Linked DNA regions of Homo sapiens. The protein of the gene in region 4 purifies or fractionates together with the protein of the main gene of each other region. This does not show direct contact. Each region holds a gene or a part of one and is shown on either strand. Other genes may lie near its edges. The genes, in order: BRIP1, MOCOS, NOCT, CRTAC1, VPS13A and ITM2B.

What was found.
Region 1: the proteins of CRTAC1 (region 4) and BRIP1 purify together in Homo sapiens (affinity purification with mass spectrometry; 2 studies listed by BioGRID and IntAct, with this or other methods). This does not show direct contact.
Region 2: the proteins of CRTAC1 (region 4) and MOCOS purify together in Homo sapiens (affinity purification with mass spectrometry; 2 studies listed by BioGRID and IntAct, with this or other methods). This does not show direct contact.
Region 3: the proteins of CRTAC1 (region 4) and NOCT purify together in Homo sapiens (affinity purification with mass spectrometry; one large-scale study listed by BioGRID and IntAct). This does not show direct contact.
Region 5: the proteins of CRTAC1 (region 4) and VPS13A purify together in Homo sapiens (affinity purification with mass spectrometry; 2 studies listed by BioGRID and IntAct, with this or other methods). This does not show direct contact.
Region 6: the proteins of CRTAC1 (region 4) and ITM2B purify together in Homo sapiens (co-immunoprecipitation; one large-scale study listed by IntAct). This does not show direct contact.

Annotation. Positions count from the first base shown.
Region 1 is NC_000017.11:61,800,455-61,805,556, forward strand, and holds part of BRIP1 (Fanconi anemia group J protein), read right to left. Parts: intron 1,021-5,102; coding exon 799-1,020; intron 1-798. UniProt on the Homo sapiens protein: DNA-dependent ATPase and 5'-3' DNA helicase required for the maintenance of chromosomal stability. Acts late in the Fanconi anemia pathway, after FANCD2 ubiquitination.
Region 2 is NC_000018.10:36,196,375-36,201,476, forward strand, and holds part of MOCOS (molybdenum cofactor sulfurase), read left to right. Parts: intron 1-2,315; coding exon 2,316-2,382; intron 2,383-3,308; coding exon 3,309-3,950; intron 3,951-5,102. UniProt on the Homo sapiens protein: Sulfurates the molybdenum cofactor. Sulfation of molybdenum is essential for xanthine dehydrogenase (XDH) and aldehyde oxidase (ADO) enzymes in which molybdenum cofactor is liganded by 1 oxygen and 1 sulfur atom in active form.
Region 3 is NC_000004.12:139,013,421-139,019,218, reverse strand, and holds the start of NOCT (nocturnin), read right to left. Parts: upstream 3,439-5,798; 5' UTR 3,238-3,438; coding exon 3,048-3,237; intron 1-3,047. UniProt on the Homo sapiens protein: Phosphatase which catalyzes the conversion of NADP(+) to NAD(+) and of NADPH to NADH. Shows a small preference for NADPH over NADP(+). Represses translation and promotes degradation of target mRNA molecules.
Region 4 is NC_000010.11:97,869,393-97,874,494, reverse strand, and holds part of CRTAC1 (cartilage acidic protein 1 isoform A precursor), read left to right. Parts: intron 1-2,916; exon of another isoform or gene 2,917-5,102.
Region 5 is NC_000009.12:77,315,907-77,321,008, reverse strand, and holds part of VPS13A (intermembrane lipid transfer protein VPS13A), read right to left. Parts: intron 4,836-5,102; coding exon 4,603-4,835; intron 3,404-4,602; coding exon 3,311-3,403; intron 2,775-3,310; coding exon 2,418-2,774; intron 1,438-2,417; coding exon 1,336-1,437; intron 1-1,335. UniProt on the Homo sapiens protein: Mediates the transfer of lipids between membranes at organelle contact sites. Binds phospholipids. Required for the formation or stabilization of ER-mitochondria contact sites which enable transfer of lipids between the ER and mitochondria.
Region 6 is NC_000013.11:48,249,273-48,254,374, reverse strand, and holds part of ITM2B (integral membrane protein 2B), read right to left. Parts: intron 568-5,102; coding exon 439-567; intron 1-438. UniProt on the Homo sapiens protein: Plays a regulatory role in the processing of the amyloid-beta A4 precursor protein (APP) and acts as an inhibitor of the amyloid-beta peptide aggregation and fibrils deposition. Plays a role in the induction of neurite outgrowth.

The DNA.
Region 1 (5,102 bases), on a different chromosome or scaffold from region 4:
GGAGTATGAGGTAATTTTTGAAGGATTCAAATTGGGCAGATCCAGGTCAGACTATTGAGCATCTTGAGTGTAAGCTTAAGAAATATGAACTTTATCTCATGAGCAAAGGAAGCAATAGATTTTTAGGCAGATAAAAGGATGTAATAAAAGCAATATTTGGAAAACTGACCTGGCATTGATATGCACAGTGTCTCAGAAGGAAGAGATCTAGTTAAGAGATAACCAAATAAGAGGTAGGATAGAAGGGGTAGTAAACATAATGCCTATTAATTTGGATCTTAAAGAAATAGAAAGCTGAGATGAATTGTGCAGTCAGATCTGAAGACAGGAATAACAATTGACTATGCCAAATTATTCACTTTTTGTCTTATGCTGTTAACAATTGCATGTCTCTAAAAAGAACCAGGCAAACAAACACAAATGCCATTATCTGAAGTTCACTTCTCAAAGCTCACAAGGCATAATTTTATTCCCCCACATAAGTTCTTCAAAACATAGTTTTTTCAGAGAAATGTTTCTAAATAATTCTTTTTGAATATTCATAAATGCAAAGAGAAATCCTGCTGTAATCCCACTTCAGTCACTATGTTCCTTAAAACTGCTTGTTATTTTGGAAATTAAAATGAGTGGGTTGATTTTAACCCATGTTAGGATATGTTTTCAGTACTCTAATATGTTTACACAAATTTATTTACATAAATTAAAGCAAAAAAAATTAAAACATCTAAAAGCTTTTACATTCAACATTTACATCTCCATGAGTAGGAAGAAGGTTCTCATTTTTACACATATACTCACACTTTCCCTTATTTGTGCATCTAGAAGATAGTTGTAGGGACAAAATATGATGTCAGCATCTTGTATTAGTTCTCGGGCTGTGTAATATGGACAGGCCTTTAGTTTCTTCCCCAGGCTGACAAGTTCTTCTATATCCCAGGCTTTGCACATCCCTTGGAAAGTCTGTAATGTGTGCTGATCACTAATTTTATGAACTCCATGATAAAAATAGCAGGATTTTCCCTAGAAACAAATATGCATAACTGAAATGTGAACCAATATTAGCATAGAAGGAATAAAATAAGCTTATCTCAGAATTTGAGGAACATCATTAAAGCCACAAGGCTAAGATTTTACTGGCTACGCCACCACACCTGGCTAATTTTTTGTCTTTTTTGAGACAATACCATAGCTACAATCACAACGAAGTCTGGTTGACTCAGACTTAGATAGAAGTCCAAATCGGAAGAGCTCCAAATACCCTAAATTAACTTGAAAAAAATTTCTTTTAAATATGTTTGTTATGCCTTTTTTTTTCTGATTAAACTGATGTTAGGCATGAAATACTTCTGAAAGGATTCACAAAACAATGGTATCACTGGTTGCTTCCAAGGATGAGAATTAAGTGACTGGGCACAGGAGTGAGAGATTTTTCTCTGTAGACCCTTTTGTACCTTTTCAACTTTGAGCCATGTGATAGTATTTCTTATTCAAATATAAATAAGAAGGAAGGAAGGTAAGTAGGTAGGTTGGAATGTCCTAAGGGGAAAAAAAGAAAGTAAGAGTATTCACTACAAAATATTCAGGAGTACCAAAAAAAGCCTAAATTATCCATAATTCTATTACACAAAGAATGCACTAGAAACATTTTGGTGTATTTCATTTCATATTTCTTCTATACATGTGTATATAAGGATATCTCTACAATGTGACCCAATATTAAAATAACAAGAACAAGCAAGGCACGATGACAGGTGTGAGCACTTTGGGAGGCTTAGGCAAAAGGACTGTTTTAGGTGAGGAGTTTGATACCAGCCTGGGCAATGTAGCAAAACCCTGTCTCTACAAAAAATAAAAAATTTTCTAGGATTGGTGGCGTACATCAATGGTCCTAGCTACTCAGGAAGCTGAGGCAGGAGGATCACTTCAGCCCAGGAGTTCGAGGATGCAGTGAGCCATGATCAAGCCACTGCACTCCGGCCTGGATGACAAAACAAAGCCCTATCTCTAAATAGTAATAAAAACAAGAACAAAGCAAATGTTCCCCAGGCATTGAGGATTATTAACAATTCAGCCACAATAAACAAAAATTTTTATAAAGCATATTCCCTTTGTTTTCTTCTGTCTAGCGTATTAAAAATCATACAAGGAAAATCTTGACATCACTAAGCATCTTTTCGTTGCTGCTCATATATGTACATTGAATTAATGTGCCATAGCTGATGAACCAGTTTTCTTATTACTGGGCTTATAGACTGTTACCAATTTCTGCTTTAGACATAAGGCTGCAGTGAGCATTCTTATGCTGGTTTCTAAATATTTTCTTAGTCTATATTTTTAGAAATGGCATTATGGGATCAGACGCTACAAGGTATTTTTAAGTTTCTTGAAAACATATAGTGAAATTATCCTCCAGAAAGTATATATTGCTTTGCATTACCCTTTTCCCACATCCTTATCAACACTGGTGTTATCTTTTGTTATCTCTATCTTAAAAGTAAAAAATAGAATCTTGTTTTGATTTGTATTTTTTATAGTTTCTAGCAAAGTTTAACATAGTGTTGTATGAATAGTCTAACAAGGTTCAATAGTAATTTGTGTTTCTTCTTTTATGTTATCTACTAATGCCCTTTGCCATTCTATTACCTTTTTTTTTTTCAGAGATGGGAGTCTCACTCTGTCACCTGGGGTGCAGTGGCACGATCCAATCTTGGTTCACTGCAACCTCCGCCTCCCAGGTTCAAGCAATTCTTGTGCCTCAGCCACCAAGTAGCTGGAACCACAAGTGCATCACCACATATGGCTCCTTTTTTGTAGAGACAGGGTTTTGTCATGTTGCTCAGGCTGGTCTTGAACTCCTGAACTCAAGCGATCCGCCTGCCTCGGCCTCCCAAAGTGCTGGGGATTACAGGCATGAGCCACTGCACTCCACCCCATTCTATCACTGGAAATAAAAAAATTTCATTACAGGCTGGGCACAGTGGCTCATGCCTATAATCCCAACATTTTGAGAGGCCAAGGCCGGAGGACTGCATGAGCCTAGGAGTTCAAGACCAGCTGGGCAGCACAGGGAGACTCAATCTCTACAAAAAAACAAAAAAAATTAAACCGCAGTGAGCAGTGACCACGCCACTGCACTCCAGCCTGGGCAACAGAGTGAGATCCTGTCTCAAAAAAAAATACTCATTATGTGCATTAATAAAAAAATAAAATGTTTGATAAAACCCAGCCCTAACAAGTGTCTCATATACTATTAAAAATGTACAAAATTAGAAAAGTATATATATTTTTAGTAGAAGTATAAAATTCTAGTAGTAGAAGTACATAGGCAATTTGTCAAAAAACTACCAAAATTTAAAATTTTACCATTAATGTGAATAGATGTACCCTGTACTGTTAAATAGCCAAAAAATTGAAAATTAACCAAATGTCTACCCATAAGGGACATGTTAAATAAATTATGGTAAATTAATACAAAAACTTTAGCCCTTAAAAATGATTTAGATTTGTCTATGTGTTGATTAGGCTCTCTATGTTAAGTGAGAAAAACATGTTGAATAACGTGTATAGAATGATTAAATTCATGTAAATTGCTTTTTTAAAGAATATGTGCACATACATTATAGCAAATACATTTTTTAAACATTCTGGTAGAATAGATATATAAAATCTTACAGTAGTTACCTTAAAGGATTAAGGAGATGGAGGATCTAGAAAAAGCCTCTCTTTTCATTTTCTAACCACATACATGTACTACTTCTCTTTTTCAATTGTCATTGGAACTAAGTGGTAGAATAATGGGCCACTTTTATTTTAATTAATTCTACTATTTATTTTAAAACGATTTTGAAATAAAAATATTTATTTTTCCTAGTTTGCTATCCTTAACAAAAAACAACCATACATAAAATATATAAATTATATCAGGGATAAAAGACTTTGAGGCAGCTATATACATATGTGTGTGTGTGTGTGTGTGTGTGTGTGTGTGTGTGTATGTGTGTGTACATACACATACATATATACATATGGGTTCAAGCACTTCTCATGCCTCAGCCTCCCAAGTAGCTGGGATTACAAGCACGCATCACCATGCCCAGCTAATTTTTTGTATTTTTAGTAGAGACAGGTTTTGCCATGTTGGCCAGGCCAGTCTTGAACTCCTGACCTCAAGTGCCCACCTCAGCCTCCCAGAGTGCTGGCATTACAGGCATGAGCATCATGCCCGGCCAATGTATTTTTTACAAATACATAATAATTTCCCCATATATATATATTCAAAATATTTTTGTCTAATAATTATTAAAATTATAAAATATAAAAATAATTAGTCTAACAAGGTTCAGCAATAATTTGAATTTCTTCTTTTAGGTTATCTACTAATGTCCTTTGCCATTGTATTACTGGAAATAAAAGATTTCATTACAGGCTGAGCGCACTGGCTCATGCTTATAATCCTAACACTTTGAGAAGCCAAGGCAGGATGAAATGTCTCTCTCTTTCTGTGTGTGTGTGTGTGTGTGTGTGTGTGTGTGTGTGTGTGTGTGTGTAAAATTAAATTGTATTTGTATACGTCTGTATAATAAATTAAATTGTATATATATACACACACATATATATGCATATATATAATCTTTACATGTATTTTTATCTATGAATTATCCAAAAGGAGAATCCGTGTTTTCAAAACATACATACATCAATACATACACAAATGTATCTAGATATTGCTAGAAACAAAGTAAACCATAAGAGATTCATAACCTATAAAAGAATGTCAGCAAATCAAAGGACAAGACATGAATAGCTGAGGACCAGTTCTCCTAAAGCTTTGTATTCAGCCATGTTAAAGGATGATACCTGTTAGTCCTCCAAAGTATTAAAAATAAAAATTAGGAGGAAAGGACTCATCTAACTATATTTATTTAGGCCATTTTCTACATTATTTTCACTCACTTTCTCTAACCTCTACTGTTCTTATTCTTCATACTGTGTCAACTTCTCCCTACCTCAATGCCATCTTTGGATTTTGTTTCTAGTGTAACCAAAATAGCAATGGATGAGGAATCAGAAAATTTGGGTTCTGGTCCCTCCTTGCTAATTAC
Region 2 (5,102 bases), on a different chromosome or scaffold from region 4:
TGAAGAAATGGGGCCCCAGAGAGGGCAAGTAACTAGCCTGAGGCTGCACAGGAAGGACTGGAGCTTGGAGGAGCTAGAAGCTGTGTTTGCAGGCAGTTTAGCTCCAGAGCCCAAGCCCTTAGCCTCCACCAGAGTGCCTCGATTCAGGATACTTCTGTTATGCCACATTAAGGGGTTTGGATTTTGGCTCTGGGCAGCCAGCAGATATTTAAATCTGGGGAACAGTCTTCTGGGAAGGTGCCAAGGAGGGATTTATCCTGATTTTAATCTGCAGTTTGCAAAGGTTCTTGTAATTCTCCTTCTTTAACCTTTGCAAGAGCCATAACCGTGGGAAAGCCTGAGAGATGGCAGAGTTGAGATTGCAGGTGGTGGTAATGATGCAGCGCTAAAGCCAAGCAGAGGAAAGGCAATGAGGATAATTACCAGGTCCCACAGGTTACTAGCAATGTGGAAACAGAACATATGGTAGCTGCAGTGGCCAGAAATCCAGTGCAATCTTTCAGTGTATTTTGGAGGAAAAAAAAAGTCTAAAACTAAAGGGCAAATTCTGCGTTAATGAGCACATGTAGCTCCTGAGAAATGCTGGTGCCTGGTCTTATAGGTCAGGCCCTACCAAAGCCTGTCTGGGGGTTAAGTTTGAGGGAGGTCATGATACTCTGGGACACATTTGGTGAGGACACCAGGAAGGGAGCAAAACTAGAAGTTAAGAGGAAGAGTGACATTGGGAGGAGGGCCTTCCTCCTTGAAAGTGGATGGCTAAGGGCAGCACAGTGGCCCCCTTCACATATTTGGAGGCCGGGATCAATTATTTCTGCAGGAAAGGCATCAGCAGTGGTGGTGGGATCTGCAGGGCAATACGTGGGGACTTAGATTAAGTGGCGTTCATGGCTCTGCTTCATGCTTGGAGAAAAGGGCATCCTCCTGAGGCTGTATACTGCATTCTCTGGAGTTAAACAGAGCCACAGCCACCTGTCTGGAACATGTAGAACAGACTCTTGCACTGGCCTGCTTCTGAGCTGACTTCCAGCTCTAAAATACTCTTCCCGATCACATTTGGTTTTACTAGTGAGGAGAGATTTTTTTTTTTAACTATATCATAAAATTTACCAGCTGGGTACAGTGTCTCAGGCCTATAATCCCAGTGCTTTGGTAGGTCAAGGTAGGAGGATTGCTTGAGCCCAGGAGTTCAAGACAACCCTGGGCAACATAGCAAGAGCCTATCTTTACAAAAAACAAAAATTTTAAAAAATCAGCCAGGTGTGGTGGCACATGCCTGTTGTGCTAGCTATTCAGGAGGCTGAGGCAGGAGGAGCCCTTGAGCCCAGGAATTCAAGGTTATAGTGAGCTATGATCAGCCACTGTACTCCAGCCTGGGTGATAGAGTAAGATTGTGTCTCTCTTAAAAAAAATCTATTTCAGGTGTCCAATGATGATTTTTTAGTGATTGACCTAGTGATGCAATCATCACTATAAATCAGTTAGATGTTTTCATTCCCCTGAAAAGATCCTTCATGCCCATTACAGCTAATCCTTGTTGCTGACCTTACCCCCAGGCAATTGCTAATCTACTACTTTCTGTATCTCTACAATTCTTTTGCTGGACATTTAATGTAAATTGATTCATGCATTATGTATATTCTTGTGTCTGGAGTATTTCATTTATCATGCTTTTGAAGTTCTTTCATGGCATAGCCAGTAGTTTGTTCCTTTTTATTGGCAAATAACTTCCCTGGCTGGGCACAGTGGCTCATGCCTGCAATCCTAGCACTTGGGGAGGCTGAGGCAGGAAGATTGCTTGAACCTAAGAGTTCAAGACCAGCCTGGGCAGCACAGTGAGACCTCATCTCTACAAAAAGTAATTTTAAAAAGTTAGCCAGGTGTAGTTGTGCACACCTGTAGTCACAGTTAGGAGGCTGAGATGGGAGGATCGCTTGAGCCCAGGAGTTTGAGGCTGCAGTGACCTATGATCATGCCACTGCCCTCCATCCTGGGTGATGGAGCAAGACAGAACAAAAAACCAAATCACTTTTTATTTTATGGATGTAGCATATTTTGTTTATCTGTTCACCCATTGATGGACATTTATATTGTTTCCAGAATTTGACTTTCTGAATAAAGCTACGAACATTCCCATGCAAGTCTGTATGGACATAAGTTTTCATTTTTGAGGGATAGAAATCTAGGAGTGGAATTGTTAGGTGATATGGTAGTTTTATGTTGAGCTTTTTGAGAAACTGAGGGAGTGGATTCAGAAGGAACACAAAAGAAGCGACCCTAAGTAGTGACTTGGTGGCCTTGTCTTTGTAACCTGCCAGGTAATCCTCACAGCCAGAACATCAGCAGCAAGCTCACCCATGACACTGTGGAGCAGGTGCGCTACAGGTAAGCATCAGGGACACCTGCCTGACTGGGCATACCTAGGCAGACAGACTTCCTTCCTAGGACTTGCCTGCATCCCACAAAAGTTCTGAGTTGGTTTCAGGAGGATCACAGTTGGCTAAAAGGCAATGCATGTATGTTGAGAAACATCAGAGTCAGAGCTCAGAAAGGCAGCGGTGAGTAGATGCAGTGTGGGGCAGATGAGACACACAGGTAGGTGGCTCTGAGGTGCACACAGCTGTTCTGTGTGGCTCCAGAGACTCTGCAGTGCCAAAGTGACAGGAAGTGACCCAGGATCCTAGGTCTTGTTTTCAGAAAGAAGAAAAGTACTATTTCTCTGGTTTTCCTTTTCATAAGAAGTTTTATTAGGCAACTTGTTTTCTTCCTGTCTTTTTTCCCTTTTCCCCCCTTTTTTACTAGTATTTGTATGTTAAACAGCTCTCTATACTTTCTAAACATAACAGTATCTGGCAAATAATTTCCAGGTTGTCCTTAAAATTATTAACACAATTTCCAATCACACAATTTCAAGTTAGTTCAAATGTGAAAGTGATACTGTTTTGCTATTAGAGTTGCCAAAACTAAAAGCAATGTAAACAGGTTGATTACTACTTAAACCTTGTTATGTTAGAGCTGAGCAGAAAGCACCAAGGAGAGAAAGTAGTATCAACTCTGATTAAGTTTATTGTGGATTTTTTGTCATACATATCCAATTGGAGATATCCAGTGATATTTGGGAGGTAAGAGGATTTTGCCAACTGGAACTCGTTCCCACGGCTTCCATTGCCCTCGCCCTAATTTCGCAGCTGTGGCAAACCTATCTATCCATTAAGGTAGAGATGTCATAGTTAATAGAAATAAAACAGCCTGCAAACATTCAGTGCTGGGGCTGAGATCCGCGGGTTGCGGGGATGCTGTGCTTCTTCCAGAATCCTGGCGCACTTCCACACCACCGCAGAAGACTACACTGTGATCTTCACTGCCGGGAGCACGGCTGCTCTCAAACTGGTGGCAGAGGCCTTTCCATGGGTGTCCCAGGGCCCAGAGAGCAGTGGGAGTCGCTTCTGTTACCTCACCGACAGCCACACCTCCGTAGTGGGTATGCGGAACGTGACCATGGCTATAAATGTCATATCCACCCCGGTCAGGCCAGAGGACCTGTGGTCTGCAGAGGAACGTAGTGCTTCAGCCAGCAACCCAGACTGCCAGCTGCCGCATCTCTTCTGCTACCCAGCTCAGAGTAACTTTTCTGGAGTCAGATACCCCCTGTCCTGGATAGAAGAGGTCAAGTCTGGGCGGTTGCACCCTGTGAGCACGCCTGGGAAGTGGTTTGTGCTGCTGGATGCAGCCTCCTACGTGAGCACCTCGCCTTTGGACCTGTCAGCTCACCAGGCCGACTTTGTCCCCATCTCCTTCTATAAGATCTTCGGGTTTCCTACAGGCCTGGGCGCTCTGCTGGTCCATAATCGTGCGGCTCCTCTACTGAGGAAGACCTACTTTGGAGGAGGGACAGCCTCTGCGTACCTAGCAGGAGAAGACTTCTACATCCCGAGGCAGTCGGTAGCTCAGAGGTAACCTTGCCACAGGGGAGGGGTCAGAGGAGTTCAGCAAGGTGGGGTCTGGCCTGTTTCTCCTGGAGGATTATGCAAGAGGTGGGTCTGGCTTTGAGGGTCAGCAGAATTCAGGTTGCTGGCAGGGACAGGCTGATGGCAGGGCTCAGATCTGGGAGGCAGAAGTTGACTGGAGGTGACACAGGTGTTCAGTGAACTCTACCCCCATTTGAGAGGCTTCTCCAGAGCTGTGAGAGGACTGGGGCCTGCAGATAAGAACTGCACACAGGAGAGATAAAAGGCCCTCATGGGGTAAGGAGGGTGAGCTACCAGGCCTCTGCCCTCAGCACTGACAAGAGGTTGCAACAGTTGAAACAGTGGCCTTAAAAGGTGGCACCCAGTGGCTTTAAAAGGTGGCACCATTTGGAAAAAGTCTGCCCACACATTGACAGCATAGCTGGTTCTCCAGGAGCTAGGATCAGCTCAGCCTGGCACCTAGTTAGCAGGAGGAATCAGTTAAAGCAGAGGCCCCCAGACTTGTGAGGCAGTGTTAGCGGCAACCTCTATGAGCCCCACTGTGAGTGAGTTACAGAGGGAGTCTGGGTGCAGGTTGTCACTTGCCCTCAAATGCCAGAGGCCTCTGCCTGGGTTGTTGGCATATGCATCATCCCCAGGCTGCAAGGGCAGGTGGTGTGGGTTATGCTCAGGACTCTTTCAAATGGTAACAGCTGGGACCTGTAAGGTCGAGTGTGTCAAGGCTGAAAATGGTGGCTGATCCAGGGTTCTGCTGGGTCAACAGTGGGGACACAGGGTTGGGTAGGCAACTAATCACCTCCAGGGTCCGGAGAAGGCCTGGGGCATAGACGGGAAGGGCTTTAGATCCCCAACAGACCCCACACAGACGCAAGGGTCCTGCACGTAGGGCCATGGCCTTGACGATAGAGTCAGTGTTAGCTGTGTAAGCCTCAGGCTGGACCACTGGGGAATGAGTCCCCGCTCCACTGCACACCAGCGAGGGGACATGTGACTTGTTCTCTGCACCTCATGTTTTTTCTGTAAAGTAGAAATGATAATATTGGGTCGGGTGTGGTGGCTCACACCTGTAATCCCAGCACTTTGGGAGGCCAAGGTGGGTGGATCATGAGGTCAGGAGTTCGAGACCAGCCTGCCCAA
Region 3 (5,798 bases), on a different chromosome or scaffold from region 4:
CCCGGCACAGTGGCGTGTGCCTGTAGTCACAGCTGCTCAGGAGGCTGAGACAGGAGAACTGCTTGAGCCTGGGAGGTGGAGGTTGCAGTGAGCAGAGGTGGCGCCACTACACTCCATCCTGGGCAACAGTGCGAGAGAACCTTGTCTCAAAAAAAATAAAAATAAAAATTAAAATTAAAAAGCACTTAGTGCTGGGTCTGAGGCTCTTTGGAAAACAATGTCCATTTTTGCAAAGTGCCTCTTCTCTCACCCTTCCTCATCTGTGTGTGTCTCATGCCTTTCTGCATTTACTCCTGCTTTTTCCAAACAAAACGCTTTATAGTAATCTCTTCCAATCCTAACCATGCTTCAAGAGCCAGCTGAAATGCCACCCATTTCTAGAAGCCCAAAAGGGACTTCCTGCTTTCCTGCACCCTTGTGCCATTTCCAAGTCAAGAGAATAAAAGGTGTTTCATTTCATTAAACAGCCATTTCATTGTGCAAATCTCATCTCTTACTGGGCAGTAAACTCCTTAGGGACTGACTAAAGCTCATGTTTTTAACTCCCATAATAAAGCACCTACATTGTGTGAGACATTCTGTAAAGATCTGGAATGAGTGAACAAGCAATGAATGAATCAATGCAGGCATGTTTCTTCCAACAAGCTGCTGAAGCTAAAAATGCATGAACAGGAAAATTGTCTAGACTTTATAGTAACTGCCTACAAAAGTTTAAGTACCATAAAGTCCTTCAATTTCCTTATCTGTAAAACTAGGGGGTTTCAGGGGATTTCTTAAAAGAAGTTCATTAAACACTTTCTTGGGTCAAAAGCCCAACATTCCAATCTGACCTGATATTATTACTCAGATAACAGTAATTACTCAGATAACACAGCCATCTATGTTTTACACAAGCTAACAGTATTCCCATGAGGAGGTACCTACTAACCCTGCCTCTGAGACTTTGAGGGAATTTAAGATATAAGCTGGTACAGAAGACATCACCTGGTTTTCTTTTACTTTTCCTACCTCAAACCTCTAACAATGTTGTTCTTAAAATTTCCAGCAAGAAAAAAGTTATCAGGCAATATACTCATTCTGGCAGTTATTTCACAATGTACCACATTCCTACGAAATTGGGGGTGGGGGTGGGGAATCTAACTGTCAAGTTCACTCTAAGGAACAATATAGTTCAGAATCTCCAGCAACCAATTCAACATCCTAATTTTAAAATGACTAAGTTGGGCATGGTGGCTTCCACCTGCAAATCTCAACTGCTCCAGAGTCTGAGGATAACTCGAGGCCAGGAGTTTGATACTAGATTGGGAAATACCTAAATATCTGCCAACAATGCGAATAGTTTAAAGTCTTGGCTTCAATCACATTCCAGATGACCATTTTTAAAATATATACATTTTTTAAAATTTTTATTAATTTTGTTTTGAGACGGAGTTTTACTCTTGTCACCCAGGCTGGAGTGCAATGGTGCGATCTCGGCTCACTGCAACACTCCGCCTCCCAGGTTCAAGTGATTCTCCTGCCTCAGCCTCCAGAGTAGCTGGGATTACAGGCGAGTGCCACCACGCCCAAGCCCATTGGCCAGGATGGTCACGAACTCCTGACCTCGGGTGATCTACCCGCCTCCGCCTCCCACAGTGCTGGATTACAGGCGTGAGCCACCGCGCCCGGCCTATTTTTTTAAATTTTATAGGCCGGGGGGGCGGTGGCTCACGCCTGTAATCCCAGCACTTTGGGAGGCCAAAGCGGGAGGTTCACCTGAGCTAGGGAGTTCGAGGCCAGCCTGACCAACATGGAGAAACCCCATCTCTACTAAAAATACAAAAATCAGCCTGGCGCGGTGGCGCATGCCTGTAATCCCAGCTTCTCGGGAGGTTGAGGCAGGAGAATCGCTTGAACCCGGGAGGCAGAGGTTGCGGTGAGCCGAGATCGCGCCATTGCACTCCAGCCTGGGAAATAAGAGCAAAACTCCGTCTCAAAAAAAAAAAAAAAAAAAGTTATGTATTGCCTAGTTTTGAAAGAAAAAATTTATCAATTTTTAAAGTATAATTAATTTGTATGTAATTTGTGGCCATGGTAATGTGTGCCCAGGCAGAAACAGAGGTAGCAAAAAAGGAAAACTCAGGGTAGTTATTATGATGTATGAAAACAGCTCTTGGTGAAACTAAGGCCTCACTTTTACAAGATCTTAGATACACAGGACAAAAAATGATGTTAACTATAAAGAGTGGAAGCCTCCAAAAAAAAAAAATCCAAAGAAACGTAAAATGGCCGAGCGCGGTGGCTCACGCCTGTGATCCCAGCACTCTGGGAGGCTGAGGCGGGTGGATCACGAGGTCAGGAGTTCAAGACCAGCCTGGCCAAAATGGTGAAACCCCCGTCTCTACTAAATATACAAAAGTTAGCTAGGCGTGGTGACTGGCGCCTGTAATCCCAGCTACTCGGGAGGCTGAGGCAGGAGAATCGCTTGAACCCGGGAGCGGGAGGTTGCGGTAAGCCGATATCGTGCCACTGGACTCCAGCCTGGGTGACACAGTGAGACTCCATCTCAAAAAAAAAAAAAAAAAAAAAAAAAAAAAACAACGTAAAACGAATCAATGTGTTATTATCACGACTTAAAAAAAAAACTTAATATCTAGACCATGAAAGCTATATAAGCAAATAAGCATCATTTAGATTTTTTTTTCCATAAAAATTTCCGTTAAGTCGTGCAATAAAAAATGTAACCAACATAGTAACTCGCGGCCTCGGAAGGGGGAAATTTAACGGTCAAGAACAAGAAATTCTGAAAGCATGGCCTCTAAGGGTCAAGCGGGAACCTGAATACAGTCTCCCAGTTCTTACTAGCTTTGATGCAAGCCCCAGGCAAGTCGGGGAACAGGGAAAGAGGAAAAAGGGAACGCAGAAGGTTGCTCCGGTAAAGGACCCACTTTCAGGCCAGACTCCACGACCGGCAGCCCCGGGCTTCTCATTCATTCCGCGCGGTCTCCAGGTGGCGGCCGCGCGTTGGCGGCCGTGGCGTTCTCCGCCCGGAACTGGGGTGCACTCACCTGTTCGGGAACACGACCTCGCGGCGCCCGAGGCCGCCGAGGCCGCCGCCAGCAGCCGGGGGGATGCGGGCCTGGGAACAGCAGCCGGCGGGGACAACGGGCGGCGCAGCCCTGGGGCGGGCAGGCGGCGCAGGCCGGGCGCGTCCCTCTGCAGCAGGGCCGAGCAGAGCCGCCGCGGACTATGAAACATGCCGGGCGCCGCCGCCACCACGGCCCCTCGCGCGCCCGAGGAGCGGAGCCCGGCTGGGGCCGAGGGCACCGAGTCGAGCCGACTGTCCGGGCAGTGTGGGCGGATGCTCCCAGGCTCCTTCTCGCGCGGCGCAGGTTCTGGGGAAATCCCGGGCAGCAGAGCCGGAGAGGGAGGTGCAACACCGCTGCGTCGGCACCGTCTGCTGTGAGACCTGGCGAGACCTGCAGGGCGCCCGGCGAGCGCTGCGCGCTGACAAAGCGGGCGCTACCAAGCGGGAGCTGGAGGGGAATCCGCGGGACCCGGCCACTGCGCGGCCACGCCAGGCTCCCTCGACCCGGCGTAATCCTGTTTTAAAAGGAAGCGGGGCTTAGGCTGATTTATAGATAGAATCCGCAGGCGGTCTAAAATAAGAGGTATCCGTTGGAGCTGTTCTGAAGAAAAAAGCGTCCCCTTCCGCTGGCCAGCATGGAAGCGCCCACAGGCTGGGAATCCCGAGACAGTTCCAGGGCTGTGGCCCAGGGGACACGTGTCTGTCAGAGTGGCAGACGGCCTACGTGTGTGCCTGCGCGGGTCTGTGTGGATACAGCAAAAGGCGTCCGCCTCCGACCCCCTCGGCAGTGTGTGATGCGTTAAACGATATTAAGCACAATAAAGCACCGCCTGTGGGCGAGGCGACGATGATTAAAACAGCGTTCTTTTCCTCAAAAGTGTTATACTTAGGCAAAGGGAGCAGAAGGTGGCAAGGGAAGTCAGACCAGAAAGCTCTACAAGGTAGAATGAGATTATTGCCACAAGATGCCAAAGATTGGCTATAGAGATGACAACAGGCCCGGGCTCTCTAGAAGGTTCATTAGAAGGATTGGCATTTGAGTTGGCCTATGACGTGGAGGTCTAGAATTTACCCACGTGAAACTTTGGAGGGGGTGGTGGTGAGTTATAAATGAAAAAAGTAAATAAGGGTGTATTTGGGGAAACAACTCTTAGTCATGTAAGATGGAAGCTAAGGAGTAAGAGGACAGATGCGTGGATAGGTTGTAGTGTGGAAGGAAGGGGATTATAGTAGGCTTAATTCGGTGGATAGCTGCGAGCCGTTGACGTTTTGTAAGCTGAGCAAAGACATGGTCAGGGCTGTGCTTTAATTGGAAATCACATGTCTCTGGTTCATGAAAAGGCAGAAAGGAAATCAGCTGAGATAACAGATACTGTAGACCCGCACCAGGTTACTGTTACTGGAAAAGAAAGGATGGAAGAAACATCTCAGACAGGCTGGGCAGGAAATGATGACTAATCAGGAATAGAAATGGGATGAGGGGGAGGGAAAACCCAAGACTGGATTTTTCTCTGAATGATTCATGAGTTAGAAATGTATTCTATTGGTTTTCCCATGATTTTGCTGATTCCCCTGTGTTGTGGAATTGCAAGCTTTTCATCACAAGAATATTCTAAATATTTTTCAGACCTAGGTTACATATCTAACACCTGTGGATAGAGGGTGTGGACAGATCAGCTGGCACAAGTTGATTACAACTTCTGGCAGACAAGCTCCTTGGAAGTCATTAAAGCCTCAGTTTCAGTTTCCTTATCTATAAAACATAGAATCATACCTTAGTCATTAGGTGAAATAAAAAATGATAATAAGCTACTCTGGGCACACTGTCTATCGAGTAGTCCTGCTCCACAAGGAGCAGTACTTGTAAAAAGAATTTTTTTAAAAAGGTGATAATAAAATTAGCCTATGAAAAGTGTTTTGCAAATATAGCAAAATGTTGATTTTGAATCTAGGTAGTGGGTATATATGGGTATAGGGACCATGGGAAAAATGTTCCCTTTGCCCTCTGAAGTTTGCTGAAAAATCAACTCACAAAAGGCAGATTAATGGGAGAAAAGGCATATGCATTTATTAACATGTACATGGGGAGAATCACAGAGTGATTACACACCCCCAACGGGGTTCAGAAGCTTGTCTACCATCCTGGCCAACAGACTTGGGGAGAGGGGAGCAGAGGCATTCTGTTGAGGAGATGACTAGGGAAAGTGAATGGATCAGGGCACAGGGATGAACTTGCACATTATCTTGTGAAAGGGTCTGTTCAGGTGGTTACATTTTTGGTCTTACAAGGAGGGGAAGAAAAAACAATTGTTCCTTTTGGTGGGTTCGGATTGTAGCCAGATAAAGGAACTTCAACTTCATCCTGTGCTTTGGGAGAGATGGTGCTGGGCAGTGAGGTCAGAGAGACCTTGAGGCTTCCATTCAGCCGGTCAAAGCCCCATATTTTGGGCTATCAGTTTCTGAGTCCCGACACAAGTGTTCACTTACAATTATTTTTCCCCCATATATTTGGAGATTTTCATAATAAAATGTTGGGGAAAAGTGCTTTGAAAAATGAAAAAATAACTGTTCAAATATAAACTGTCACTATTTAAAGAGATTCAAAGAGCATGCTATCCTGAAAGTGCATCATATTATTTATTTTTTTTTTATTTATTTATTTGAGATGGAGTCTGTCGCTCTGTTGCCCAGGCTGGAGTACAGTGGCGTCATCTTGGCTCCCTGCAACCTC
Region 4 (5,102 bases):
CCAGAAAAAGATGGCAAATGGCCATAAGGTGCAGAGCCAACCTTCCTGGGGCCTGGGCTGTGCTATGTTCTGCTGAATTCTCATGCAGTGCCATTCCCAGAAAGAATAGTCATAAAACAAAGTGAACTGAGCTAGGCGGGCATGGCATGGACTGGGCCATACAGAGCAGAGGTCACCAGGAGCTAGTGAACTGGCCTGGGAATTTGGCCCTCAACAATCACAGAATCCTAGAGCTTTAAATCCAGGAACACCTGAGAAGTCATCTAGTCCTCTTCCCTCCTTTTCAGACGTGGAAACCAAGGCCCAAAAAGGAGCTGCAACTTTCCCAAGGCATCTGCACCCCCGTCTGGTCCTTTTTCCTGCCGGGTTGCCGGCTGCTCCTCAAAAGAGCTCAGCTCCAGGCTGCTCCCAGCACCCTTCTCCAGAAAGCTCCAGGTATTCCAGAAGCCCAAGTGTATGAACAAGATCAGGAATAAGAGAGGCAGGGCTTATCCTTCCCACTTTGCTGACATGGAAACTGAGTCAGGATACGTGCCCATCAAGTAACAGAAGAACCATACTTGGTCCTTAGAACTCAGCTGGGATTAAATACAGATCTGAATGGGGGTCCCGAGTGCAGAGAGGAGCCTGTTCAGCTGTGAGGAGGGAGGCAGGGTCAGGAGAAGGGTGCGGCAGATGGAGAATCTGTATCACCCGTTCCCAGAACGTCCCGCCCAGAACCTCATGCCCTCAGCCTGCCTGCCAGCAGGAAAGCAGTCTGGGGCCAGAATAATTCCCCTAAAGCTAGCTGGTTCTCCTTCTTCATGGCCAGCCCCAGAGCAGCCAGGAAGGATCTCATCCCCTAGAGTCATTTAATGCACCCTCCCCACAAATCTAAGGGCTAACTTCCCTCCCTCCACCCCAGACCTGGCTGTAGAGCTCCTGGAACAGGAAAAAAGCACATCCTCTTTCCCCAACTGCTTATGGAGACCATGGCAGAAGGACAAGTTTAGGCCAAAGGAAGGAAAGTGAGCCAAACATACACCCTCTCTGCAGTTCAGATCCCCAGACTCAAGGTTTAGAGCCCTCGAAGGCTGACACAGAAGAAAGAGGGAGAAGGAAGCCTGGGGCTGCCCTCGTGTCACCCAGTCATTGGAAAGTCTCAGTGCCTCCTCCCACTGCAGAAGGTGTCTCACATGTGCCAAAATGCCATGTTCGTTCTTAGAGCTGTGCACAAATCCTATGGCCCTCCCCTCTCCCTTCCTTTCAACTGTCCTTAAAATTTTCCCTTCACACTGAAACTCTGGGATCAAATGGACTTGAAATCCAGACCCTCCACCCAGGCATTTGGAAGTGGCCTTAAGAAGTTGTTTCATCTCTGAGCCTCAGTTTCTTCATCCACAAAATAGAGGCAGTGATAAAATCCTCATAGAGTTGTTGTGAGGCTTCCTCGAGCCTATAAGGTACTTGCTGCAGTGCCTGACTGATGAAATGCAGATATTGTCATAAAATCTGTGCCAGGACGTTTAACCTCCTGGTTTCACTTCCAGCAATGCCTGACTTTAAAACAATCCATAAGCCATTAGCTGGGGCAATATTAGACCTATAAGGATTCTTCCCAACAAGACACATCCATCACTCAGAGTTACAAATGCGGAGTTCATCTGGGGACTGGGATAGCACGGCATCTTCCCTTTGAAGAGCTCCAGCCCTATATTTAGATCTGCACTGGGGAGCCCAGGGGCGATCGGTACCCATCCATTCACCTGCCTCTCCAGGGTCTGCGAGCATCCATCTCAAGCCAGGCAGGCCTCTCGCTCATCTCTGATCTATCAGTCATCTCTCTATACCCATCTTCTCTGTATCCATCCACTTATCCAGCCAGCCAGCCATCCAGCCAGTGATTCACTCACAGTAATTCACTCTCTAGGGCCTGAGGTCCAGATCTCTCAGGTAAAGAATTCAGCACCAGAAGGATTTTCCCCACCTCAAAATGGTGTTTGGGGAGTGTCAGGCAGGGCCGACTGGGGTGGGACACACGCTTCCTCCCCTCCTCTCCCAGGATAGGTAGAGGTCATGAGCAGAGCCACAATGTCACAGCTAGGGCAACATCACTGAGAGCTGCTGCCCAGCTCAGGGGGTAGCCTGGGGTCACTGCATCCATCCTTTAATTGAGTTATAAGGTGACCACTTGCAGGTGAATTGTATCCTTCAGTGACCACTGCCTATCTGCATGGTACTGAGCTGCTTCTCAGTGGCACCTTGCCCTAGGGGTCTGCAGATGACACATCTGTATAGGCCTGCCTCTTCCTGCCAACCTGAGATGGGCAGCATCTTCCATTCACCTGGCCAGGGCCAGGCCCTGAAACAAGCACTCAGGATAGGGGGAGGTGGGGGTGGGGGTGGGGAGTGAGTAAGACAGGCTCCCTGCCCTTGAGAAGTGTACTGATTAATTGTGGGCAGCAGGGAAAAGGACCCTCGCAATCTCTGAGGTCTTGTAAGCTGTGTGTAAGCTTGTGTGTAACATTGCCCCCTTCTTGGGGCCTCACTCAGCACTGTTCTCAGGTGATAGCTGGTTCCCAATCACTTTTCCATTACAGAAATCGATAACTTGAATTACTCCAAAATAACTAGTACCTTCATGCCCCTGCAAAGCTAATTTTTCTGGGGATGCATTTGCCCACGAGTTTCTCTCTGGTCTGGAATCTGTCTTCTATCTTTATGAGTCAATCCAGGTAGAACACTCTCTCTTCTCCCACGTCTCACTCTTGTGGCAGAGTGAGAGTGGGATCTGGAGTCAGAGACTTAGGTTCAAGTCTTTGCTCTGACACTTACTAGCCCTTGTCAAGCTACCTAACCACCTAGAACGTCAGTTTCCTCATCTGTAAAATAAGATTTCAACACCCCAGTGTTCGAGAATTAAATGGAATAATAATGTACATGAATGTTCCTGGCATTTATTCGGGAATCAGTGAACCCTTGGATAAATATCTGTTTATTCTATGCCAGAATCTGAAGCCTGCTATAAATCTACATCATGAGGCCATCGTATAACGAGGTCCTAGTATCACTTCTGCAATAACAATATCTTACATTGGAGAAACAGATGATTATTTATAAATATACACATTCTCATAATGACAAAGGTGAGACTCAGGAAAGTTAAGTGAATTGCTGGGGGTGGGAAAGGGGGCAGCTGGCACAGCCCTCTGACTCTCTTCACAGTTTCCCACTTCCTCCATTGTCCCTGATTCAAAACCCGACGCAGCTCCAGGATCCTGCATGCGAAGTTCTGCTGTCCAGCAGATGCTGAAATGACAGGCCCTTTGAACATCCTCTTGGAGGAAGAGTTGTGAGCTTGGTGCAGGCTGCCCTTGGCACTGCCAGGGGAATAAATCCTCCTAGAAGTCGCCCGAGAAGGCTCATGCGGAAACCTCCGAAGGCTGGGCTCTGAAAGGAAGGAAAGAAACCGACATTACCAAGCATCTCTTTCATGCCAAGCACATTCATGGCCAGTTTCTTACTGACTCCTCAAAACCAATTGTTCTTAACCTTTTTAGGGGGTTGCATACCCCTTTGAGAATCTGCTGAAAGCTGTAGATGCTCTCCTCAGATAACGGCACATAATATGCACCTGAATGCAGTCGGGTCGAGGTTAAGAACTCCTGGTGTGAACCTGGGCTGTTTTCAGATTTTCTTAGGCATCAGGGACCTTCCCTTTTAGAGGGCCCACCCACAGCAGAGCAGACATTACATTTTCACACACACACACACACACACACGTAACATAGAGTTGCAGTTGTCTGTTTGGCATATGTGTTACATTTCCAGATATTTAACAAAACGTTAATTTCAAGTGTGTCCTTTCTTTTCCTATTTTGTAGCCAACAGGCTTTTCTGGTGAATTTTATTGAAATATATCACCAGTACAGACAAATACACAGCTCTTAAGTATACAGCTCAGTGAATTCTCATGAAGTGAGCACCCCGTGTAACTGGCACTCTGATCAAGAAACAGAACATCCTGAGCTCCCAGAAGCCCCCCAGGTCCCCATCCATTCGCTACCCCCGACCCAGGGTAATCTTGATCCTGACTCCCAATCAAAGGCGAGTTTGGCCTGTCTTTCAGTTTCATATAAGGGGAATCACATGGTGCATATGCATTTTTGTGTCTGGCTGCTTCTGTGGAACCATAAACTTCTTATTCAGGTCTCAGGCATTTTCAGAGGTGTATTAAAGGCTTATAGGCTATAGGTACTGTCAAAACCAGGGATTCTCAGCCTTACCTTCACATTAAAATCACCAGGGAAACTCTTTAAAATCCTGATGCCCAAGCTGTCCCCCAAAACAATTAAATCAGAATCTCTGAGGATAGGATCAGGCATTGGTGATTTTTCATGCTTCCAGTTGACATCCATTGCCACCAAGGTTGAACGCCTCGGGTCTAAACAACTCTGTGAGATATTAGTCTCCCTATTTAACAACTGGGGAATCTGAGGCTCCAAGAGTCTTCATGTGTCAGTGTCATGAAGCCAGAGCTCAAATTCAGATCTGATGTGGAGTGGTGTTTGCCTTGCCTTATCCCTGGGTGAATGGTAAAGCCCAAACCAGGTGGTGATGCCTCCTGTCTGGGCCCCCCTCATTGTGAGTCCTTCTAGAGGTGTGGAGAGGGATGTGGAGTTTCCCAGGCTCGACAGCCCAGGGGCTGGCCCTAGGGAGAAAGTCACCAGACTCCACCTTTGCCCCACACCTCTGGAAGCCACAGAAAAGTCCCTGCGGGTGGCAGTGGCTGCCAACCGGGGAGCCGTGGGGGACGTGTCACAACAGCCATAGTTCTTTCTGTCTCCACCTTTGATTCCCCGAGTGCAGTGCATAATCCTGCCACTCAGTGGCACCTCGAGCTTCTGTAAACCCTGTGGTTTCACACACACCCGCCCTGTGGCCAAAGGAAGGAAGCCAGACAGCAGGGTGCTGGCGCAGGGAGAGGAGCATGTGCAGCAGGAGCTTCCTGAGGCATGCCTGAGTGGCTGGGGCCTCACTTGGGACCTCGGGGACAGTCTGGCTGAGGCTGGAGCTGCTCCTGGGTCTTGATGGGGCCTGTCCCTGGCTGGCAAGGTGGGTGC
Region 5 (5,102 bases), on a different chromosome or scaffold from region 4:
GGTCATAAAGGACAGAAGTATTAGAGAAAATAAATCATGTCATCATCAGTGATAGTAAAATGGCAGACACAATTTAGAAGGAAAAATAAAAACCTAAAATTACTATGTGTACCCGGGATCTGAATATAAAAGCACATACTTCAAAGCAACATAAAAACTCAGACAGAAAAAAGTAACTTAATGTATTGGTCATGCTAATAATAAAGAACAGAAACCTAGAGACTTACAAAGGCAGACAATAGTAGCAGAACAGTGTTATAAACCTAGAGCTCATAAGAATCAATACCCTTTACCATTTTTTAGGAGTCACAGATCTGCTGACCATGTGTATTCTAACCTAAAAACCACCAAGGAATTCCTTTTCATATCCTTCATCTAAAATATCTGGAAAATAAAATTAAGTGATCTAATATGAAAAGAGCTCAACATGCTAAGCTAGTCACCTCTGTTGTTACTTTAACTGGCTTTAAGCCACTGAAAATCTGTCTGCAGGTTGACCAAGTCATTATTAGGTAGGAAACACGTGAGTAATTCTGCAGTCTCTTGCTTCAGAAGCAAAATTTCATCCACCTAAAGGCCCCGATTCTCATGATTATATAAATCCACAATATATTTCAAACAAATAATATACATTCCTGCACACATGCAAACATCCAAAGGATGAAGGAAACTCAGGATAGACAACAACCTACAAGATGATGACACAGGCATTATAGCATAGTGGTTTAGAGTGGATTTAACGCCTCTGCAGCTGGATTTGCATCCCATCTTTTCCACTTTGTAGCTATTATTACTTCAAGAAGTCTCTTAACCTCCCTGGTCTCAGTCCCTTCACATGTTAAATAAAAACTGTATCTACCTCCAAGAGTTGTTGTAAGGATTAAAATATTTAGAACAATGTCTAAACTGTGTTCTAAATTATGTTCTAAATTGTTCTAAATTATGTAACAAGTAACATAATACTTGTTACATAATTGTATTAGAAGCATAGGCAACATTGGCCTTAGATTTGAAAATTATATTCAGAGGGCAAACAAGGAAGCATGTGGGCAAGGCTCATGATGAGACAACCTGAACCTTGTTGTGATTAAAATAAAGTGTCGAGTGTGGTATAAACATTCTCAATTTTGGAAAATTTTTTCAGTCTTCAAATATACGTTGATGAGGGAATGTTAATAAAGGGGGAGGCTATACATGTGCAGAAGTAGGTGGTATACGGGAAATCTCTGTTCCTTCTTCTCAATTTTGCTGTGAACCTAAATCTGTTCTTAAAAAAATAAAGTCTTTTAAAATACATATATATATATATACACACATAGACATATATAGATATACCTTGATACCAAGATTCCATGGTCTAAAATCCTCAGTCTGATCAATTTCTAAGGGTTCAAGCAAAGGCTCCCATACACCAAACATTTCATTATAATAATGCACCTACAGAGAGAATTTTTTAAATTAAAAATGATCTTCCATCCTGTTTCCCACCATGTTTTTTAGCCCTGTTATTTCTTCTATATAAAAACCAGTCTACATGCCATTCAGTAGCTTCCTATAAGCACTCCCTCAGCATTTTCCTCACCTGGCTAACTTCATAGTACATATTCGCTCTTCACAATTTAGTCCAGATAAAACCCCTTTTTAAGCATCTTTCCTTGATTCTACATTACATAAAAGTATAAGGCATATATTTCTAATTCTTCATATTTCTATTAGAAGAGATTATTATCCACATATTCAGAAATTCTGTCTATATCCTTAAAAAAAAAAGGGTATTCAACTTTAACTCTTTTCTTTTCTTTTTTTTTTTTTTGAGTCTGGGTCTCACTTTGAACCCCAGGCTGGAGTGCAGTGGTAAGATCTCAGCTCACCACAGCCTCGACTTCCCAGGTATTCTCAAGTGATCGTCCACCTCAGTCTCTCGAATAACTAAGACTACAGGTGTGAGCCACCACCACTGGCTAATTTTTTGTATTTTTAGTAGAGACAAGGTTTCACCATGTTGCCCAGGCTGATCTTGAACTCCTGGGCTCAAGCGATCCTTCTGCTTTGGCCTCCCAACGTGCTGGGATTACAGGTGAGCCACTGGGCCTGGCCTCAATTTAACTCTTTAAAAAAAATATTCTGAATCTAATCAACAACTGTCGAATAATATATTATCTTTAAGTTGATAAAATCAGTTGAAATATAAACTTAATGTGGACATGTACTTTAAAAGTAAAAGGAATGTATACATAAAAGCAATTATTCAAGGGCAAAATTTGAAAACTTTTTTCTAAAAGTTTTTGACCCAATATCATATTTACAATAAGCTTAAATAGCTACACAAGATTCCATAATATTCCATATGTATCATTATCTGTCATAATATTCCATACGTATCATTATCTGTTATAAAACTGGAAAAATATGCTTACTTCTAGCTCAAGCTGACAGTGCAGATTTATTAGGGAACTCCAGTTTTTGCCTTCCCCTGAAAAACGTGACTTTGCCAGAAGCATAGGTACTGTTCTATGACCAATTCCAGCCTCAAGAACTATAAAAATAGAATCAATGTTCATTTTTATCATCTCGCCTTTGGGTACCAATTCAGTTGTGGGAGCTATTTTTTCAGTTTCATTTGATTCTTCAAGAAACCACATTTTTAAAGTCTTTGTATCCTTCTTTTCCCATAAATGTGCAGTAGAAGAAGCCGTTTCTTCTGGGATGGTTTCCTTAGTTGTATACAGTGCTGAAGTTATGGTAATCATAGTATTTATAATAACTGGTGAAACCTAAATGGAAAAAAATTAATAAGTCTATACAAAACACTTTCAAACATACTACGTCAAGAAATATTAAATATATATTATGAGAAATTAAATACTGAATTAACATTACTACCACAAAATAGAAGATACAATTTATTGTTTATAAAATTTTTTAAATTACCATAATTCTTGTTATGTGTTTACATGAATCTTGCAGATATTTACATGAATCTTGCAGATATTATTCCATGAATTACATGATATTATTAATATACATGAATTGCAGATATTATTAAACTGATGAAGTATAAAGTAATTTCAATAATATTTATTAGGGATATTAGATGTTAACCACACAAATGTAAATAATAAAATATAGAATAACATTCATAAAATGTGTATTAAATAATATTACTTTGTAAATATCTCATAAAAACGTATTTTCAAAAACACACCTATTTTGTTTGCATAACAATTAAAAGACTTGCTATAATAACTTTCTAGGCTTTACTACTTTTTTTAAGTGCACTAAATATTCAAATGATTATATTTTAATTTACCTTTAGTGTCAGGGATTTTACTGACATATCGATCACTTGTGGATCTGTACCTTTCTGAGTAGTTTGATAAAACAAGTCACAGGGCTGCAAAACCTATGAGAGAAAAATCAATACCACTAAATTAATGTTTAAATATAAAAATATTTCTATTTAAAGACTTTCCTAGTAATAGGTATGTCAAATAAACAAGTTAATAAAAACAACTATTTAAAAAGTGACTTAATAATACACTCCTTAATTATCCCATATAAAGGACATCTAGAACCTAATATCTGTTCTATTCTTCCACAGTAATAGAAGTTTTATCTGAGCACAAGGTAGCTCAGAAAAAAATACCACAGTCTCCAACCTTTACTGAAGTAAAGTGTGGTCATACAGCTATATTCAAGCCAAAAAAGATGTGAATAGAAGAAATATATATTTAAAACTTCTAAGTCAAAAACTAAGAGAGAATTGGTATACCCTCCATTTTCTATTCTCTCTCTTTGCTTAGTGGAGGGCCAACTGTCTTGCAAATTTGGGCAACAGTTTATCTTATATCCTAATATATATGTATTCATTGTATCAAAATTACATCTTATATTTCTATGGTGACAATGTTTAGAACATTTATGCTTCTATAGATGCATACCAAGCATCAGGAAAAAAATACAAAGAAACAAACAAAAACTTATGCTTCTATTACTCCTTCAGAAGCTCAAATATTTTTGTAAGTATTCGCTGGAAGTCAGCCAGTTAACTTGAAAAGATGTCTGTAAAGGAATGAATTTTAAGTAGAGTTATGAAGAGGAGGAAGGCCAAGAGGTTACTAGAGAGTAAAATATCAATGTGAAGTATGTCAAAGCAAATGGCTGAAGGTTCAAATGAAGTTACATGGAGACAAGGAAAAACTCATTATTTGAGCAAAAACATCCAAACGGGAGAAAAAAGTTGAAACAATAAAATTGAAACAACACAGCAAACAACTGGCAGAAAGTCTTAAAAGTCCAAAGAGCAATTTGGAATTGACATGGTTAGAAAGTCAAAGTAGATCTTAACTGAAAACTGTCAAGATGAACCCAACTTCTTAGTGACAATATTCCCACAAATACTAACAATAATGAGCAGCATCTGGAAGAATGAAAGAGTTTCAAAGCTGGTAAATAATATTCTAAATTAAGCTCTCTAAGCAGAGAGAAAGACATTTTACAGAGCAAGGTTGGAAAGCATGTAGGTAGTTTTTGTTTCCTAAAATGGTATACACTACATCCAAAATAGTTACAATTAAGCAGATGATCAAATAGTTAACTCACAGTAGTGATTTTGCCTTTTCTCTTGACTGGAAGAAACGGGCAGGCTCTCACTTGGAGATCTTTAATGGCAGCAGTCATTGTACTATTTTCAAGGTTACCTTTATAGCAAATTTCACATTGTGTTGTAATGACTAAAGCAGGAGCATCATTTTTTGTCATGTCAGCTACAAACACAATTTCAGGATTTTTAATAATAACATTAATTTCCCACTTCACTGATTCCTGTGTAGGTACTAAAACAAATAAAAATAGATTAAAATATTTGCTATATATTATGAATAATTTATTATTTATAAGAAAATATTAAAATGAAATAATAGTAAAAAGTAAAACAAAAGAATCTTAGATCCCAAAGGAATCAACTACAACCCTTAGTAAAGACTTGAAGAAGCTATAGGCATAAGAACATTTTTAAATGAGGGGAAATCTCCACTATTTAATTGGAAAGCCTAGAAACTAATCTAGTTTCTAACTCTCAACTTGATACTCTTTCTACTATA
Region 6 (5,102 bases), on a different chromosome or scaffold from region 4:
ATGGTCTTACTGTATTCTGGGCCCAAGGGTACAGCAGGACCATAGGGGAGTCCAAGCTGACTATCAAGTTATGGCCTATCAACATGAAAACATTTGTGGCTGATGTATTTATTCAACTGGCAATTGATAATACTATTCCTCTCAACCCTTAATTATAGTAGGAAAATAAAGGTTAGTAAAATCACCCAATGACCTAAATAAATCCCTTAGTCACCAACATTTCAAGTTACTCTGCTTTTAGTGACTGTGTGTGATGGGCTCAGCAAACATATCATGGAGAGATGTTTAAACACAGCTTTAAAATAGAACTACCACTCTGGCTGAAGGTCACAGATAAAAAGTACAAGCTTAGCGCAAGTTGTAAACAATTTTGTAATGCACATCGGGAGAGGCAAAAAAAAAAAAAAATCAGAGACACAAAATAATTTTTCCACTTACTTGAAGTGCAAAATATTTGTACAAGTATGCTCCTCCTAGAATAACACCTGCAAGCATAAATGCTAGTCCAAAGCACATGCACCAACACCAGGCTCTTCTTTGGCCAACTGGTACCACATCATCTGGGTCCTAAAATATGAAAAAGACAGTTAAATATCTTATCTCCAGACAGAATAACAGAAGGCTCAGGACTAGAAAAACCTTAATGATTATCATTTTAATAAATGAAGACACAAAGACCAAAGGAGTTGTGTCTCTCATCAAAATCAACCCAGGAATGATTAAGTGGTAGCTCCAGGGCTCATCTTAATGGTTCTTGGACTGGGACATTGGTCTCTAGGAGAGTTGTCTACTTCTAATCTCAACACCCTACCTGCTAACCCTGCCTCAAGCAATGATACACTCCATAATTTTTACTTTCCATGCACAACTTTTGGTGATATATTCTATAATTTAATAATTTAGAAGAGGTTATGCTACAACTTAGTCACATAATATGATGATGAGCCTTGTACATTATAAATCCAGGGCATCTCTCTATCTGATCATTTATGAAATTATGTGTTAGGCCTGCTACAGGTGGTTTATATTTCATACCAGGTATAAAACTATTCTAAACCATCCACAAGAAAAAATTACAGGAAAATAAGGAAAAGAACAAACAATGATACTAAAATTATTTAAACAATTAGAATTTCAAAAAATAGGACAAAATTATATACATAGAAATACATAATCCTATTATGCCACTGCTCTACCCTAAACCATGGTCTGATAAAATTCTTCACTTTCTTTTAAAGATAGAAGCAGTAGAAAAAAATGAGAACATATTCAATGATAAAAATTTACTGATAAATTCAAGAAACAAAACTAGCACAGAATTTTATAAAATTTTCATTTCTATCCACTTAAGAAAACAATTTAGCATTAGAACATTATTTGGGGTCATGACATTCATAATTCCTAGATATTCCCTCCCTGTGCCCTTCTAACCTGATCCCTCTAATCTGTCACTTTAGAATTACAGCAAATTTCTGATTTGTACCCAAGTTCATGTGCAAAGAGCTAAGAAAACAAAGATACTTAAATAAGTAGTCACTCAATAAATAGTAAAGACTGCAAAAATTCATAGTATACATGAACAGCCTCTTTGAAGTACATGACTCTGTCCTTTACTTGGAAAACCCACTATGGAGTAGGCTTAAGGCAGAAAGCAGACTTCACCTAAACCTATATAATAGGATATAAAATTAGAAAGAAAAACTATGAATGATGCACAAAAACAGGATCGGTCATTGGAACAGCACTACACAACCTTTTTTGGCACCAGGGACCAGTTTTGTGGAAGACAATTTTTCCACAGACAGACTGAGGGGTGTTGGGATATGGTTTCGGGGTGAAACCGTTCCACCTCAGAAGATCACCAGGCATTAGATTCTCATAAGGAGCGCACAACCTAGATCCCTAACATGCACAGTTCACAATAGGGTTTGCGCTCCTAAGAGAATCTAATGCCCCCGCTGATCTGAGAGGAGGCGGAGCTCAGGCAGCAATGCTCACTGTGCAGCCAAGTTCCTAGCCAAGACCAGTTCCGGTACTGGTCTGTGGCCTGGCGGTTGGGGACCCCGGTATTAGAACATAGATTTGGTTGAAGCAAGAATTCAGTTACGAATGAAACCTAAGATTATATGTTTTTAATTCTAAAATGAGGAACTTTAACATGATACAACTGAAAAAGGTCTAATCCCAGATGTTGAAGCAACCAAGAACAATGTGATACGATACAGTGTGTTCCTAGGTTGAGATTTCAAACATAGAATTTAACACTGAACAACAAACAATGTGTATTCTAAGAATCAGTGCATTGCTATGAGAATGTCATGGTTTCTGTAGCACTTGTCAATATACTATGTGTGAAAGACAATGAGCGTATTGCAAGGAAGAAAAGTATGTAATGAGAATAAGTCTGAAGAATTTAGCAAGCCATGTAAGATATCCCAGCTGTGAAAAGAAAGCTACAAGAATTCCATGGAGTCATAAGGTATTATGAAACTTTAATGACGAAGTATACATCTTTTGCTTGAGCCCTTGTCTGACATAAATATCTAAGGAGGTAAGAAATCATTCCTAACATAATTAATTTTAGAGTGGAAGGAGAGTGGGGGGGATGAAAATGACAGATGGAAATAGTTATTTCCAACATTTGGTATCAGCTGCTGGGACAGCCAAATGTGCGCACACACCCACCCCATTTGGCAGGCTTTCTCTTCCAATAGTACATAAATGAATAGCCAAACAGCACAGGCAGACATCTGTAAAAGAATACGCAGCCCCAACTGGCAAATTGATGACAAGTTTCAAGGCATTGTAATATATCATTTTTAACTGTTCAACAATCATTTTGAGAATAAATTATAAATGTCTACTATGTGCCAAGAGCTGTGCTAGGCACTGGAAATGTATGCTCTGCCAAGAAAGAGACCTGTTAGATCAGTCCGGAAAACAGATAAATATACAAAAAGAAAATAAATATGATACAAACTCTAATAGGAAAATGCACAGAGAGCACATAAGAGGGGATGAGTTTCAGGAAGACTTCCCAAGGGAGAAAATACTTTAGTGGAATGTTAAAGGACAAATACTCATTACCTCAGCAGAAGATAGAGTTAAAGGAAATTTTATATATGGCAATGATTTTTCAAAATTTATGGAGCTAAAATGCATGACATTTCCAAGAGCCACATGTGCTTTGGCTGGAGTGCCCAATATGGTGGAGATGAGTATGAGAAATGATGGACAAGAAGCTGGTGCAGGTCACAAAAGACCTTTGTAAACCATGCTAGAGTTTGACTTCTCATGTTCATTCAAAAATCACTTCTCAGCACTATTGAATATTTTTTTAAAATTCAATTTCTTGAGGAATTTCACTTACAAATACTTCACTTATCCACAGGTCAATTTATTCAGCACCTCAACAACGTGAAACGTGGCTTAAGAATCAGGAAATAAACAAGAGTCTTTGGTCAGCCAAATTATAGACCCCAAACCTATGCACCACCATCATGTACTTCATAGAAGAGCTGTTTAATCTTCAAAGTCTATCTAATCTTTGTTCTCTAAATTCCTAATTATCACTTTTCTTTCATGAGAATAATTCACATAAAGATCTTATCTCTCTCTACTAGGCTATAAGATCTTTTAAGTATCCATTCATATTCATTTTGCATTACTGGTAGCTCCAAGCCAAGCTTAGGCTTGGCATTAGCTGGCACTCATATATTTGATGAGTGAATAAAACTTAGATCTTTTTTTTTTTTTTGAGATGGAGTCTCGCTCTGTTGCCCAGGCTGGAGTGCAGTGGCGCGATCTCAGCTCACTGAAAGCTCCACCTCCTGGGTTCACACCATTCTTCTGCCTCTGTCTCCCGAGTAGCTGAGACTACAGGCGCCCGCCACCACACCCGGCTAATTTTTTGTATTTTTAGTAGAGACAGGGTTTCACCGTGTAGCCAGGATGGTCTCAATCTCCTGACCTCGTGATTCACCCGCCTCGGCCTCCCAAAGTGCTCGGATTACAGGCTTGAGCCACCGTACCCGGCCAACTTAGATCTATTTTTTTAAAAAGCCTGGTTATTTAATTTTTTATGATTCATAAAAGTTATACCAGCAGCCAGCGTGATAATAAGGGAAGGGAGAGATGCAACATAATTCATAACGTAAAACAAACTGTGGCTATTTAGCAAGAGCAGTAGCCTAGTTCAGCATTTATTAAGTAAGGCTTGCTATTTGCAATATACTGTGCTAGATCCTGTGGGAAATCAAATGTGATTAAGACATGGCTCCTACTTTGAGCGATTTATAGTCAAGAATTAACATCACGTATGATAGATAAATGATGTTCCATAATACAATCCGAGTCATGGAGAAGGGATTAAAGTATGCTCAAGATTTAAAAGTTTTTAATCTAAGAGATTTATTAAAAGTGTTTTTAGAGTGATTAAATTTTAACACTTCAAAGAGTAAGCTTTACTTAAAGAAAAAGCCACGTGAGATTTAAGAAGAAAAACCCCATGACTATCTCAAAATATACAGAAAATGTATTTGACAAAATTCAACTTCCATTAAAAAAAAATCTTTGCAAACTAGCAAAGGGTGAAATTCTTTAACATCAGTAAGGCTAATAATCAAAAGCCTATAGAAAGCCTCATACTTAATGGTGAAACTTTAATACTTCACCATACCCTTTTAATTGAGGAATACAGGAATGCCCACTAAAATTGACTGTTTCCACTGAACACTGTACTAGAGATCCTACAGCAAGTACACAAACAATAAAAAGATTAGGTATTAGAAAAAAGAAAAAACTGTTATTATTTGTAAATAATCTGTCTATGTAGAAAATCTAAGAAAGTCAAATTATTTAAACTAATTAGAGGGTGGCAAGATTTTTAAAGATCAATAATCAAAAATCAACTGAGTCAAAAATTTAGTCATGAATATTTACAGCATCATTATTTATATACTAGCCCCAAACTAGAAACAACCCAAATATCCATCAACTGATGAATAAATTGTGGTATATTCATACCATGAAATAGATAGCAATAAAAAGGAACAAAATAACACACACCAGCGGGACTGAATCTCAAAAACATGCTAAGTGAA